Linked DNA regions of Homo sapiens: region 2 is linked to region 1. The links come from fine-mapping of genetic effects on gene expression. Tissue or cell type: blood mononuclear cells. Region 1 holds a variant in brackets; the other region holds the start of a gene. All regions are shown on one strand. Distances are from middle to middle.

Region 1 (8,101 bases):
CGGATAATGTTTGTATTTTTAGTAGAGACGGGGTTTTACCATGTTGGCCAGGCTGGTCTCAAACTCCTGACCTCAAATGATCCACCCGCCTCAGTCCCCCAAAGTGCTGGGATTACAGGCATGAGCCACCGTGCCTGGCCCCCTCTTCTTACTAAAGATGAGCTGTTCATGCTCCATAGAGGCTAACTCCTCCATGTGTACACCAGAGCCCAGCCCCTCTCACCTACTCAGGTACATGGCTTCAGCAGCTGTCCCTCCTCATCAGTTTCCCCTTCTCCCTTATCCATTACCAATATGGTGATATTTCTTGTCTTCAAAACCCCCTCCCAGCAGGGCTTGGTGGCTCATGCCTGTCATCCTAGTACTTTGGGAGGCCTAGGTGGGCAAACCACTTGAGCCTAGGAGTTTGAGACCAGCTTAGGCAACATGGTAAAACCCCATCTCTACAAAAAGTACAAAAGATTAACCAGGTGTGGTGGCATGCACCTACAGTCCCAGCTACTTGGGAAGCTGAAGTGGGAGAATCACCTGATCCCAGGAGGTCCAGGCTGCAGTGAGTGGTGATCACACCACTGCACTCCAGCCTGGGTAAAGGGAGTGAGATCCTGTCTCAAAAACAAAAACCAAACAATTTTGGGGGTGTTCGCTTTGTAATAATTCACTGGGCTATACTTATGATTTGTGAACTTTTCTATATGTTTGTTTTACTTCAAAGTTAAAACAAAACAAACTTCCCCTTAACTCTACATTCCCCACTAGCTATCAACCCATTTTTCTGTTGCCCTTTATAAAAAAACAAACAAACCCCCTCAAAATGGCAAATAATATTTGGAGTTTGCATTAGTCAGGTAGGCTAGACTATTCTGTGTAAAAAATGGATGCCAAATGCTACAGGTTTTACACCCAAAGATCTTTTTTTATTTTTTGAGACGGAGTCTCACTCTGTCACCCAGGCTGGAGTGCAGCAGCGCCATCTCCGCTCACTGCAACCTCTGACTCCTGGGTTCAAGCGATGCTCCTCCCTCAGCCTCCCGAGCAGCTGGGATTACAGACGCCCACCACCACACCTGGCTAATTTTTGTATTTTTAGTAGAGACGGGGTTTCACTATGTTGGCCAGGCTGGTCTCAGGTGATCCTGACCTCAGGTGATCCGCCCACCTTCACGGATCCAAAGTGCTGGGAGTACAGGCATGAGCCACCGCACCCAGCCCCAAAGACCTATTTTTTGCTCACATAAAATCTACTGTGGGACTGGTAGCAATTCAGAGTAGCTCCCTTCCAAGCAGTGATTCAGGAATCCAAGCCACTAGCACCCTATAGAAGCCATTCGGAACACATGCCTTCCACATCACCTGGCAAGGGAAGACAGAGATGGAGGATCATGTACCAGCTCTTAAATACTTCGTAGCTCACATTGGCCAGAACCAGTGATGTGGCCAGAGGGACTGGGAAATATATGGAGCTCACGGATATCTGGAAAGCAGGAATTGTCTCTGCCGTAGCCTCTCCATTTCTCCCATTCTCTCTAAACCAGTTCTGAACAGAATCTCACCTCCATTACTCCATCAACACTGCTCCCATCAAGGTCACCAACGACCTCCAGGATCATCTTACTTCACCCATAAACAATAGATAATTTGGTTATTTCCTCTCTCTTGAAACATTTTCTCCTCTTTTATGGCATACCACTCCTTTCTTGGCTCTCTTCTGACCTCATGGACTACTCCTTCTGAGTCCTTTTTGCAGTTCTTACTGTAAAGGGGCACAGAATTCAGTCTTTGGACCTCTTCTCTGTCTTCACTCAATCCCTTGGTGATCTCATTTGGTCTCATAGTTTTAAATTCCCTCTACATATTAATACTTTTTTTTAATCTCCAGCCCCAATATCTTTTCTGACTTAAAGAGGCACACACATTTAACTGTCTACTTCATGTTATCTCAAGGTTATATGCCTCAAACTGAACTCCTTAAAAAGGCCATCTCCTGGCCAGGCGTGGTGGCTCTCACCTGTAATCCCAGCACTTTGGGAGGCCGAGGAGGGTGGATCACGAGGTCAGAAGTTTGAGACCAGCCTGGCTAACCTGGTGAAACCCCATCTTTACTAAAAATATGAAAATTAGCTGGGTGTGGTGGCACACGCCTGTAATCCCAGCTACTCAGGAGGCTGAGGCAGGAGAATTGTTTGAATGTGGGAGGCGGAGGTTGCAGTGAGCCAAGATCGTGCCACTGCACTCTAGCCTGGGTAGCAGAGCCAGATTCTGCATCAAAAAAAAAAAAGGTCATCTCCTTAAAAAGTTGCTCCTAGCTGGGTATGGTGGCTTACACCTGTAATCCTAGCACTTTGGGAGGCCAAAGCAAGCAGATTACTTGAGCCCAGGAGTTCAAGACCAGCCTGGGCAATATGGCAAACCCTGCCTCTACAAAAATACAAAAATTAGCCAGGCGTGGTGGCACGTGTCTGTGGTCCCAGTTACTCAGGAGGCTAAGGTGGGAGGATCACAGGAACCCGGGAGGTAGAGCTTGCAATGAGCCAAGATCGTGCCACTGCACTCCAGCCTCGGCAATAAGAGTGAGACCCTGTCTCCTTTTTTTTTTCTTTTTTTGAGATGGAGTCTCGCTCTGTCGCCTGGACTGGAGTGCAGTGGCGCGATCTCAGCTCACTGCAAGCTCCACCTCCTGGGTTCATGCCATTCTCTTGTCTCAGCCTCACGAGTAGCTGGGACTACAGACGCCTGCCACCACACCCGGCTAATTTTTTGTATTTTTTAGTAGAGACGAGGTTTCACCGTGTTAGCCAAGATGGTCTCAACCTCCTGACCTCATGATCCGCCTGCCTCAGCCTCCCAAAGTGCTGGGATTACAGGCCTGAGCCACCACGCCTGGCTGGTAGAGAACCTGTCTTTAAAAAGAAAAAAAGGCCGGGTGCAGTGGCTCACGCCTGTAATCCCAGCACTTTGGGAGGCTGAGGTGGGCGGATCACCAGGTCAGGATATCGAGACCACTCTGGCTAACACGGGAAACCCATCTCTACCAAAAATACAAAAAATTAGCCGGGCGTGGTAGCACTTTTTTTTTTTTTTTTTTAAGAGATGGGGTCTTGCTCTGTCACCAAGTCTGGAGTGCAGTGGCTATTCACAGGTGTAATCACCACCCCACCATGCACTACAGCCTCAAATTCCTGGGCTCAAGTGAACTTCCTGCCTCAGCCTCCCGAGTAGCAGGGACTACAGGCACTTACCACTTCTCCCAGAGTTTTCACCATCTCAGTAAAAGACAATTTCATGGCTGGGCATAGTGGCTCATGCCTGTAATCCCAGCACTTTGGGAGGCCGAGGTGGGTGGATCACCTGAAGTCAGGAGTTCAAGACCAGCCTGGCCAACATGGTGAAACCCCATCTCTACTAAAAATACAAAATTAGCCAAGTGTGGTGGTGCATGCCTGTAATCCCAGCTACTTGGGAGGCTGAGGCAGGAGAATCACTTGAACCCATGAGGCAGAGGTTGCAGTGAGCCACGATCACGCCATTGCACTCCAGCCTGGGCAATAAGAGCAAAGCTCTGTCTCAAAAAAAAAAAAAGAAAGAAAGAAAGACGGCCGGGAGCAGTGGCTCACGCCTATAATCCCAGCACTTTGGGAGGCCGAGGTGGGCAGATCACAAGGTCAGGAGATCGAAACCATCCTGGCTAACACAGTGAAACCCCGTCTCTATTAAAAATAAAAAAATTAGCCAGGTGTGGTGGCATATGCCTGTAATCCCAGCTACCCCGGGAGGCTGAGGCAGGAGAATCGCTTGAACCTGGGAGGCAGAGTTGAGATCGCACCACCGCACTCCAGCTTGAACCCAGGAGGCGGAGGTTGAGATCGTGCCACCACACTCCACCCTGGGTGACAGAGCGAGACTCTGTAAAGGGAGGAAGGAAGGAAGGAAGGAGGGAAGGAGGGAGGGAGAGAAGGAAGGAGGGAGGGAGGGAGGGAGGGAAAGAAGGAGGGAAGGAAGGAGGGAAGGAAGGAAAGAAGGAAGGAAGCAAGGAAGGGGAAGGAGGGAAAGGAAGGAAAGGAAGAAAGGAAGGAAAAGAAGAAAGGAAAGAAGCCAGGAAAGAAGGAAAGAACGAAAGAAAAAAAGACAATTTCTTTTTTTTTTTTTTGAGACAGTCTTGCTCTGTTGCCCAGGCTGGAGTGCAATGGCGCGATCTCAGCTCACCGCAACAGTGCGATCTCAGCTCCACCTCCTGGGTTCAGGCAATTCTCGTGCCTCAGCCTCCTAAGTAGCTGGGACTACAGGCGTGTGCCACCACACAGGCTAATTTTTGTATTTTTAGTAGAGACAGGGTTTCACCATGTTAGCCAGGCTGGTCTCAAACCCCTGACCTGGTGATCCGCCTGCCTTGGCCTCCCAAAGTGCTGGGATTACAGGTGTGAGCCACCACACCTGGCCAAGAAAGACAATCTCATCCTTTCAGTTGTTTGGTGAAAAACCGTGGAGTCAGCCGGGCACGGTTTCTCACACTTTGTAATCCCAGCACTTTGGGAGGCCGAGGCAGGCAGATCATGAGGTCAGGCGATCGAGACCATGCTGGCTAACACGGTGAAACCCCATCTCTATGAAAAATACAAAAAATTAGCCGGGTGTGGTGGCGCATGCCTGTAATTCCAGCTACCCCGGGAGGCTGAGGCAGGAGAATCCCTTGAACCCGGGAGGTGGAGGTTGAGATCGCGCCACCGCACTCCACCCTGGGTGACACAGCGAGACTCTGGGAGGGAAGGAAGGGAGGGAGGGAGGGAGGGAAGGGAGGAAGGAAGGAAGGGGAAGGAGGGGAAGGAGGGAAAGGAAGGAAAGGAAGAAAGGAAGGAAAGAAAGAAAGAAAGGAAGGGAAGAACGAAAGAAAGACAAGCTCTTTTTTTTTTTTTTTTGA[G/A]ACAGTCTTGCTCTGTTGCCTAGGCTGGAGTGCAACAGCGCAATCTCAGCTCCACCTCCCAGGTTCAAGCGATTCTCATGCCTCAGCCTCCCGAGTAGCTGGGACTACAGGCGTGTGCCACCACATTGGCTAATTTTTGTATTTTTAGTAGAGACAGGGTTTCACCATGTTGGCCAGGCTAGTCTCAAACCCCTGACCTTGTGATCTGCCCACCTTGGCCTCCCAAAGTGCTGGGATTACAGGTGTGAGCCACCTCACCTGGCCAAGAAAGACAATCTCATTCTTTCAGTTGTTTGGTGAAAAACCTTGGAGTCGGCCGGGCACGGTTTCTCACACCTGTAATCCCAGCACTTTGGGAGGCCGACGCAGGCAGATCATGAGGTCAGGAGATCGAGACCTTGCTGGCTAACACGGTGAAACCCTGTCTCTACTAAAAATACAAAAAATTAGCCGGGCATGGTGGCACGTGCCTGTAGTTCCAGCTACTCAGGAAGCTGAGACAGGAGAATTGCTTGAACTGGAGAGGCAGAGGTTGCAGTGAGCCAAAATCGTGTCGTTGTACTCCAGGCTGGGTGGCAGAGCGAGACTCTGTCTCATAGGAAAAAAAAAAAACAAAAAACCTTGGAGTCATCCCTTACGCCTCTCTTTTTTTCCCCACACCTCATATACCAAACCATCAGCAAATCCTGTTAGCTCTATTTCAGAATACAGGCACATCCAGCAAAATGTCTCTAGTTAACATTTTCACCATAGAATGCCTTTTTGTTTTTAATATCCAGCTTGGTTGTCAGCCTTCAAGATGGTCTCTAGTAATCCTCAACTCCTGCTATGCGACTTTGCATACTCCCTTTCCACACTGAGCAGGGCTGACCTATGCAACCAATAGGACACTGTGTAAATAACAATGTGTGGCTGGGGACAGTGGCTTATGCCTGTAATCCCAGCACTTTGGGAGGCCAGGATGGGCTGATCACTTGAGGTCAGGAGTTTGAGACCAGCCTGGACAACATGGTGAAACCCCATCTCTACTAAAAATACAAAAATTACCTAGGTGTCATGACGGGCGCCTGTAATCCCAACTGCTTGGGAGGCTAAGGTATGAGAATCACTTGAACCCGGGGGGAGGCAGAGGTTGCAGTGAGCTGAGATCGCACTGCTGCACTCCAGCTTGGGTGCCAGAGCAGACCCTGTCTCAAAAAAAAATGAAAAAACAATGTGTGACTTCTGAGGCTAGGTCATAAAAGACATTGTGGCTTCTGCCTTGTTCTCTTGGATCATTCCCTCTAGGGAAAGCCATCAGCCATGTTGTAAGGACATGTAAGCAGCTCTATGGAGAGAACTTCATGGCAAGGGACTGAGACCTCCTGTGAACAGCCAGTACCAACTTGCTAGTCATGAGTGAGTCATCTCGGAAGCAGATCATCTAGGCCCAGTCAAACCTTCAGATGACTTCAACGTAATAAGAGACCCTGAGCTTGAGCCATCCAGCTAAGCCACTCCCAAATTCTTGACCCACAAGAACTGTATGAGATAATAAATATTGTTGTTTTAAGCTGCTAAGTTTTGGCATAATTTGTTACACAGCAATAGTTAACTAATATACCAAACTTATGTTGATTCAGCTTATGTTTATTTATTTATCTATTGAGACAGGGTCTCACTCTGCCACCCAGGCCGAAGTGCAATAGTGTGATCATGGTTCACTGTAGCCTCAACCTCCCAGGCCCAAGTGATCCTCCCACCTCAGCCTCCCAAGTAGCTGGGACCACAGGCATGTGCCACCATGCCTGGCTAATTTTTTAATTTTTTGTAGAGACAGGGTCTCCTTATGTTGCCCAAGCTGCTCTCAAACTCCTTGACTCAAGTGATCTGCCTGCCTCAGCCTCTCAAAGTACTGGGATTACAGGTGTGAGCCACCACACCTGGCCCAGTGTATGTTTATACAGAAAATATGTATATTTACATCATTAAAATCTTATCTATATTTTTAACAAAGTAATGTGCATTTAAAGCTTCAAATTATATTCCAAATAGAACTGATAGAAAATTACTGAGTGCCAGCCTGGCTGACATAGTGAGACCCTGTCTCTACAAAATAAAAAATCAGCTGGGTGGGGCAGCTCATGCCTGTAGTCCCACCTACTTAAGAGGCTGAGGTGGGAGGATCGCTTGAGTACAGGAGGTCAAGGCTGCAGTGAGCCGTGATTGTGCCACTGTACTCCAGCCTGGGCAACACAGCAAGACCCTGTCTCAATCAATCAATCAATGGAAAATATATTAAGTTGAAGATTTCACACAGAATGTCCAATTTTCATGAAACAGATTACTGATGTTAAGTGGGAAATGCCTATATCCAGAATCTGACCACTTGTCACCTCCACAGCTACCACTGTGGTCAAAGCCACCAGTGTCTCTCTAGGAGATTGTTGCAGTAATCTCCTATCTAGTCTCCCCTCTTTTGCCCTTGTCCCTGCATAATCTGTGCTTCTTACAGCAAAGTGATTCTCTTGATACAGAACTCAGGTCATGCAGTTCCTCTGCTCACAACTCTGTAATGGTCCCACCTTACTCAGTGAGAAAGCCAATTTCCTCACAGTGGTGCACAAGGCCCCACTCAACATAACTCCTTCCCCATTACTTCTTTGACCTCATCTCTTATCCTTTTTCCCCACTAACTGTGATTCAGCCCAGCCATAGTGGCCTCCTGGCTTTCCTTAAGCCTCCTGGGCACTCTTTAACTTTAGAACTTTGCCGTTGCTGAACTTTCCCCCTGCACCCCACTTCACCTACTCCATTGCCTGGGCTAGTTATCTATGTGACTCAGTCCCTCACTCCCTTCAGGTTGCTGCTCAAGCATTACCTTATCAATATCCCTGCTCCTTACCCCTCTTGCCCTGCTTTATTTCTCTGGATTGAAGGTTACCCTGTGACCTACCACAAATTTCAGTATGGCTTTAAGCCACATGCGGGAGGAGTTCTATTTTTTTTGAGACAGAATCTCACTCTGTCACCCAGGCTGGAGTGCAGTGATGCAATCACAGCTAACTGTAGCCCTGGCCTCTCAGGCTCAAATGATCCTTCCACCTCAGCCTCCTGAGTACCTGAGACTACAGGCACGTGCCACCACGCCTGGCTAATTTTTTAATTTTTATTTTTGTAGAGATGGGGTCTCAGTATGTTGTCCAG
Region 2 (8,096 bases), 750 kb before region 1:
AGGACAGCAGGCCTTCCTCTCTTCCTGAGAATAGGGCCTGTGGCACATGGCATGAAAGGCTGGTGTGCACGTGATCACAAGTGGTGCACGCAAGCCCAAGCGCACATGGAGTCTGGGGGCTCCAGTATACCACTGTGGGCCTGAGTATACTTGCTCAGGCAGGTGGGGGCAGGTATAGTCACTGGCCCAGCCTCAGCCCCTCAATGGAAGGAAGTCCTGCTTCCAGTCTTAACACTGCCCAGAACCCCTTTCCTTTTGCCTAGGAGTCTGGGACCTCAGTCTTTTTATCCATGCTCTTGGGCTAGTACGGGGTGGTGGTTATAGGACACAGGTCAAAATCAACCCTAGGGGTCTGTGACTTCAGTGAGAGGTCAGAGTGGTCTCCACAGCTCTGACCAAAGGTCCCATTAGTCAGAGGTTTGCAAGTCCAGGTTGGGAACCATCCTGGGAGCCCTGGTTTCATGGATGAGGTAGTGGGGGCATTTGCACTAGGGTCAGAGCCTGAGCCAGGAGGCAGAAATATTGCCACAACTCTTGGACTCTGACCCTTGCAGTGGTGCCTTATTTGGTAGTTGGGGTCAGGTGGAAGCCTATTGGCAATCACAGGAGGGTGGCGGGATGCTTCATTTAGGGACTGGGTACTAGCCCTTTTTCCTGCCCTTTTTCCAACCAGGATCCTCTGGTTGCTCTGTATTTTCCCTGCTTATACAGAGGGGTCCAGGCACTCCTAAAGACAAGTGCCTAGTCCACCCAGCAGTGCCATAGGCCTCATCTGGTGCCTCTTAGCTTCCCAGGGCCTCAGCACTAATGGTGAGGTCCTCGCTGCTTTTAAGTATAGCCAAGGTATCTAGCAGGAACTGCAAAATCTCCTGTTCCTCTGGGGTCAGTGCTTCTAGCCTTTTTTTCCTGGTGGAGAGAAAGCAAGAGTAGGGTCCCAGGGGCCAGGATCTCATGGGGTGCAGTCAGGAAGCCCCACCTTGGTGCCCCCAGTCCCCAGCTGTGGGTGAGTCCAGTCTCTGGCCGTCCATGGTTGAAGATTGACTGTTCACTTATTCAGGACCGATTCAACCAGTTACCTTCTGCAGCTTCTCCAAAGCCGGCAGTGTTGGCCTCCTGTGTGCAGGTGGGCCATGGCTGTGCAAACAGAAACCCCTTCCATGGAGAGCCAGAGCCCATCCTCCAGGGATAGCAACAGTACAGTTATATCCAGACCCCTCTCTGGTGATGTTCAGCTCAGAAGTTAGGGCAAATGGAAAACCAGGAAGGGTAGGTCCATCCTCCGGCTGTGCTGTGTCCCTTCCAGACATGAGAACTGGGGAAATGATAGAGATTAGGGATAAGGATCATGGGGGTACCTAGCTCCCTTTGGGGGTGGTAGGGCCGAACTTTTTGCCTCCTGGTGCCCAGTATGCCCTAGATGGAACTCTTTGGGAGCGCTCATCAGAGTGCAGTCTGACTTGACCTGGACTCTAGTGGCTGCTGAGCCTACAGGCACAACTGGGACCAGACAGGATGAGATGGGAGAGAACACAGGGTGATCCCAGGACCCAATCTTTGCTTTCCATTTGGCATCTTATATGGTTCTTTTTTTCCTTCTTCTTCCTTTTTTTTTTTTTTTTTTTTTTTTTTGAGACAGTCTCCTTTGTTGCCCAGGCTGGAGTGCAGTGGCGTGATCTCAGCTCACTGCAACCTCTGCCTCCCAGGTTCAAGCAATTCTCCTACCTCAGCCTCCAGAGTAGCTGGGACTACAGGCGCCTGCCATCACACCTGGCTAATTTTTGTATTTTTAGTAGAGGTGGGGTTTCACCATGTTGGCCAGGCTGGTCTCAAGCTCCTGACCTCAAATGATCCACCCACCTTGGCCTCCCAAAGTGCTGGGATTACAGGCGTGAGCCACTGTGCCTGGCCAATTTTTTGTATTTTTAGTCAAGCTGGGGTTTCACCATGTTGGCCAGGCTGGTCTTGAACTCCTGACCTCAGGTGATCTGCCCACCTCAGCCTCCCAAAGTGCTAGTATTACACGTGTGAGCCACCTGCCCCTCCAGCCTTATATGGTTCTCAGTGGATCCTGGACCCAGCTCTATCTGAGCAGAGAGATGTGATGGAGCTTTAGATGTGAATGAAGGCAGTGGCCTGGGAGGGACTGCCCCAAGAGGAAATATGTGTGCCAGGGAGAAAAGCCAGGGTTGAATCTTGAGGAGCCAATTCCTGGTGATGGAGAAGAAGCAGAGCCTGCAAAAGATTCTAGGCCAGGCGCGGTGACTCATGCCTGTAATTCCAGCACTTTGGGAGGCCAAGGCGGACGGATCCCGCAGTCAAGAGATGGAGACCATCCTGGCCAACATGGTGAAACCCCATGTCTACTAAAAATACAAAAAATTAGCTGGGCATGGTGGCACGTGCCTGTAGTCCCAGCTACTCGGGAGGCTGAGGCAGGAGAATCATTTGAAACCACCGGAAGGCGGAGGTGGCAGTAAGCTGAGATCACGCCACTGCACCCTAGCCTGGGCAACAAGAGTGAAACTCCGTTTCAAAAAAAAGATTTTGAGAGGTGGGCTGGGCGCGGTGGCTCATGCCTGTAATCCCAGCACTTTGGGAGGCTGAGGTGGGCGGATCACGAGGTCAGGAGATCGAGACCATCCTGGCTAACACGGTGAAACTCCATCTCTACTAGAAATACAAAAAAAAAAAAATTAGCCGGGCATGGTGGCGGGCCCCTGTAGTCCCAGCTACTCGGGAGGCTTAGACAGGAGAATGGCATGAACCTGGGAGGCGGAGCTTGCAGTGAGTGGAGATGGCACCACTGCACTCCAGCCTGAGTGACAGAGCAAGACTCCGTCTCAAAAAAAAAATAAATAGATAAAAAATAAAGATTCTCAGAGGCAGGACAAACAGCAGGAGGGAGTTGAGGTCACAAGGGGCAAAACTTTGAAGATGCTAGCAAGATTTAGTTAAGGACCACAGGCACATATAGTTTTAGCTATATGGTATTTCATGATGACTTTTCCAAGAACAATTTTTGGGGAGGAGTGGCAGCACATTGAGGTGACAAGTAACAAGGAGGTGGAGCCTGTGAGGACAGATGGCTTCAAGAGTTTGACTGGAGTGGAGGAAGGGGAGACTAGAGAGACTTGGGGTGTTGGGAGGTATCTAAAGGCAAGTGGCTTGTAAGTGTTTAATTGCTGGAAAGGAGGAGGAGGGAGCTTGGAAAGGGAACAGTAGCAAATGTGAAGGGGGCTGCAGAGCAGTGTGAGCCTCTTGGAAGCCTATTGGCAATCACAAGAGGGTGGAAACAGTGCCCCAAGTGAGGGCACTGAGGAGCAAGTCCAAGGTGAAGTGGGACAAGGAGGATTGAGGCCTTCAAGTCAGGGTCTGTGCAGTCTGTAACCAGCCTTGGCACCACCATTTCTGTGCAGGCCGACTGAATCCAACTGACAGTCCCTGAAAAGAGCAAAGGCTCTCTTCTCCGGTCATGCGGGAGGGTCTACCCATAGACTTCTGGGAAGGCCAGATGTGAGGGAGGCCAGGGAGTTAATAGGTAATGCCCCCAAACAGCTCTCAACCCATGACTAATGGAGATTTGAGAATGAGTATCTCAGCTCCCCTTGTTCTTGGGGGCAGCAATGATGTAAGGCCTATGTTCTACGCTGGCTCCCAGAATCCCCAGCAGGATTTGGTCCCAATGGCCCACAGTGGTAGCTTGCTTGATGACACTTCCTTTATTGGCTGCTTTCCTTGTCTCCTTGCCACTGCTGGTGTTTCTTGGCCTCACCTCCCATACTAACTATATGCATGTATATCTTTGTCCAGGTCTGCTTTGGGGGAAACTAAGATAAGCACTGTCCATGAAAGGGGGACAAGGCAGTGAGCAGACACAGACAACTGCAAGGACCTCTTCCCACAGGTACCACTGACCTGTACAAATGGGCCCTCAGCTTGAAGACTTAGCTAATACTCTGAATGCTCAGAAGATAGGCAGGGCCAAGGTCTGGGCCTGAGGTAGGTGGGCCCCTGTCACACTAGTTTGCTCTTGCTTGACCCCAGAATTGGTTAGAGGCAAGCTCAGGATACTAAAAATTGATAGTTATAATGTGCCTTGGGTCCCAGAGTAGCCCAGGTCTCTCAGGCCCTACAGGATGAGGCCAGAGTGACCCACTGGGAGGTCCCCTGGCCTCTGACTCTTCCAGCACATTCTCTGCTCAGTATCACTCCTTCCAGGAATTCTCCCCACCCAGGTTTGTAGAAGGGCCAGTGCCTTCTGTTCCTCCACCCCCGCTAGCCTCAGTGTACACTGTAAGACCTATTCCTGCTTTATGCCCAGGTAAGGGCGCCCCAGGCTGCCCCCACACGACAGAGGCCCAGGCCATGTCCCCAGTGGCCTCCAGGGGGCGCCGCCGGGAAGCCTGTAATTGGGCTCCTGGGAGCTCCGCGGAGGTGGGCAGGCGCCGGCCCCTCAAGCCCTCGGGTTCGGCTGGCCTGCTCGACACAGCCTGCGCACCCAGGCTGGGTCGGGCTCAGAACTGCCCCTTGCCATACACGTGTTGTGTCGCTCGCCGCTGCCTCATTTCTACTCTTGCCCGAGGTCGGACGCTAAATTCTGTCAGGCCCAGTGTCCAAGTGTCCGTTTATCTGTCCGTTTGCATATGACCGTAGATCGGCACGCCCTGCTCCAGCTGCGGCATGTGCAGGGTTAAGGCGAGAGGAGGTTTCCCTGAGTCGGAGGGGGAGGGGGGCGAGGGGCGGACCTGGCCCAGCCCCGCCCCGCGCCGGAGCAGTGCCGGAGCCCCGCCAGAGCCCGACTTCAGCCCCAGCCAGATCCCGCGTCAACGGAGGCGGAACGGCGGACCCCGTACCCTGGCAGCATCGGAGCACCGGCGGGTGAGTCCCGCGGGAACCGCGCTCAGGGGAAGTTTGGGGCGCGGGGTGTAGAACCCCAAGCGCGTTAGCCCAGACCCGCCCCCCACATCCTTGAGCTGGAAGTTTGGGGCCAAGAGGCCCTCCTGCCAGGGGTCCAGGAGTGTAGCCACCAAGAGAAAGGGGTGGCTGGAGAACTTGGGGATCTCCTGCGAGGGAACCCAGAAGTCCAGCTGCCCATTCCTGGTGGAAACGCCCTGGACTCAGACCCTGGAGTCCTGTGGTCATGAGATTTCTCCAACGGCCCCCCGCCCCAACCCCACTTCTGGACACCAGGGAATCTGGCTTCTGGGGGGGTTTGGAATGGGCAAACTCCTGAGGGGGGACCTCGAGAGGAGAGTGTGGAACCCTGGTGTTTAGTCCTCCCCCTAGTCTGAAACACACCCTGACTCTGGTCTTTTACTAGTGGGAATGGTTTAAATTAACCCTGTGGAATGGCCCCCAGGATGTTGTAAGGATACTCTGGAGTCTGACCCCTGACAGCAGGCGTGGGGACCCCCAGGCTGCCCAGGGCACCCTGGAAGCCAGTAAGGACTCCCCTCATGCAGGACCAGCGTGAGGCTTGTTGAGGGGAAAGGAAGGGTCCTGGATGGAGAGTCCTGTTCTAGTCACCTTACTACTGCCCTCCTAGACCCAGATTTGACCCAGTTGCTGAGTGGTTTGGGTAGTGGGTGAGAAGGAGAATCCTTCATGCCTCCATGGGAAAGGGGAAAGGCTCCTGGGTACCTGGGGCCTGCCCTCCTTCCCACTCCAGGAGGGCCTCCACAGTGGTGTGCTAGCCAGAGGGGTTGGGTTCTCCCCCTGCCTTTCCCACCAGTGATTTTGGGCCAGCCCTGCCCTTAGCTACAGGCTGCTTATTTGTTTCCTGAGGGGCCGGTCAGTGCCCTGACCCCTGTTTTCCCTCTTTCCTCCAGGTGAAGGCAAGGTCCCTGGACTGGTCATATACCTCTTGTGGCCCTGGCAGAATCAAGATGAGGCCCTGTCATGCCTCCCCAGTGAGGCCTACAGTCTGAGCAGACAGCATGGCCTGCCACTGGCAGTGAACACCATGTCTGCAGGAGGTGGCCGGGCCTTTGCTTGGCAAGTGTTCCCCCCCATGCCCACTTGCCGGGTCTATGGCACAGTGGCACACCAAGATGGGCACCTGCTGGTGTTGGGGGGTTGTGGCCGGGCTGGACTGCCCCTGGACACTGCTGAGACACTGGACATGGCCTCGCACACATGGCTGGCACTGGCACCCCTGCCCACTGCCCGGGCTGGTGCAGCTGCGGTAGTTCTGGGCAAGCAGGTGCTAGTGGTGGGTGGTGTGGATGAGGTCCAGAGCCCGGTAGCTGCTGTAGAGGCCTTCCTGATGGATGAGGGCCGCTGGGAGCGTCGGGCCACCCTCCCTCAAGCAGCCATGGGGGTTGCAACTGTGGAGAGAGGTGAGTGGCCTCCCAAGGAAGGCACTTCAGGTACCCTAACACCTTTTATTATTTCCTGACTTAGTCCCTTACCCTCAGAGACTGAACAAGAGCTGTAATTTTTACATGGGTGCCCAGGATGTGGCCTTGTCCCCTGTATCCTTTCCAACCTAGATTTGAGCTGCTGCCTTCTATTAACTGCCTTTTCTGGCTAAGGTGGGAGGCAGAGCCCAAGCCGATCCCAGGATGATGGGAGACCCCAGCCATGTTCCTGCCCCACTCCTCATTTCTAAGAGATGGGGGTGGGATGGCCTAATGACTCCCAGGGTTATAAATAGTCTGGGGTGGGGGAGAGGAGTAGGGCCTTGGCTCAGAGCCTGTGCTTAGACTTCCTGCCCCACCCCCAACCCTTCCCACACGCCAGGGAGCCTGATATGGACAAAGGCCAAGCTGATCTGGGATGGTTGCCATGGAAGCCCCCAGCTGACTGGCCCATTACCCTAAGGCCCCCAGACATGTCGTAGCTGACTCTGAGGGTTTAACAGAGGGCAAGAACCTACTATAATGAAAGAGTGTCACACAGAGGTGCTGGCAGGGATCCTGGGGCAGAAGGCTTGTGGACAGTATCTTTACCCAGCAGACCCAAGCCATTCCTCTCCCAGCCCCATCTCCAACTCCAGCTGGTCCCCAGTCCTCCTCCCCAGACTGAGCTCTGTGCTAAGCAGATCCCCATGTTTCTTACCCCTGGCTTAAGCCATCCCCCCATCTTCCTCCCCGAGGGGAGTCCCCACCTTGTGGCCTCCAGGTCTGACCACCAGCCCAGGCCAGCCCTGCTTGGATGCCAGACTCTGTTGCCATAGCATCTCCAGGGAGACAGAGTCGGATTATAATTAGATCGGCTGCCTCCTGCTCTTTACTCGGAGGGGCCCTGGCCAGAGTAGGAATCCCAGATCTCCCAGCCCCCACTGCAGGCAGGTAGTAGAGTGTCTGTTGCTGGGGAGGGATGCTATAAACACATGGGTCTCCAGCCACCCCCAGGACTTACCAGGGCAGCTGTCAGGGTGGGGTACCCTGGCAGGCTGAGGTACAATCTGAACTACTCTTTTCTATGCAGATGGTATGGTGTATGCTCTGGGGGGAATGGGCCCTGACACGGCCCCCCAGGCCCAGGTACGTGTGTATGAGCCCCGTCGGGACTGCTGGCTTTCGCTACCCTCCATGCCCACACCCTGCTATGGGGCCTCCACCTTCCTGCACGGGAACAAGATCTATGTCCTGGGTAAGGGCCTGGGGAATGTGGGAAGGGGGCTCAGAGTCTAGAAATCCTCATCCTCATAGGTTGGCTGGGATAGGGATCAGGCTCAGTCCAGGATGGCAAAACAAGAGAAGCTTTGTTGGGGTGATCCATGCCTGCTCTGAGGCTCTGACCCCTGGTGGTCTTGCTGTGGTTGGAAAACCAAACCCCAGTACCTGAGGGACTGTAGGGTGGATGATTCATGTGCAAGTGTGCACACAGCAGGATGTGGGAGGCTGAGGCAGGCAGATTAGCAACCTAGTGAGCAAGGAGCCCACCAAGCCTCCTGGGCTCCTTCCCAGGTACCCCAATTCCATTGACAGGGGGCCGCCAGGGCAAGCTCCCGGTGACTGCTTTTGAAGCCTTTGATCTGGAGGCCCGTACATGGACCCGGCATCCAAGCCTACCCAGCCGTCGGGCCTTTGCTGGCTGCGCCATGGCTGAAGGCAGCGTCTTTAGCCTGGGTGGCCTGCAGCAGCCTGGGC

Evidence for each region. PIP is the estimated chance that this variant, and not a neighbour inherited with it, causes the effect.
Region 2: KLHDC8B starts here. The variant in region 1 is fine-mapped to the expression of KLHDC8B in blood mononuclear cells (TOPMed, PIP 0.98).

Annotation. Positions count from the first base shown.
Region 1 is chr3:49,918,572-49,926,672 of GRCh38, forward strand. The region is part of intron 1 of MON1A (MON1 vesicular trafficking associated A); the gene reads right to left. Among named protein-coding and RNA genes, the nearest start is that of MON1A, 7.2 kb to the right of the region's middle. The variant G/A (reference allele first, on the strand shown) is at 4,916.
Region 2 is chr3:49,166,808-49,174,903 of GRCh38, forward strand. KLHDC8B (kelch domain containing 8B) reads left to right here and starts at 4,791. Exons shown (of 6, transcript NM_173546.3): 1 at 4,791-4,878; 2 at 5,829-6,338; 3 at 7,432-7,596; 4 at 7,935-8,096. The coding sequence starts at 5,963. RefSeq lists silencers at 4,317-4,486, 4,707-4,806.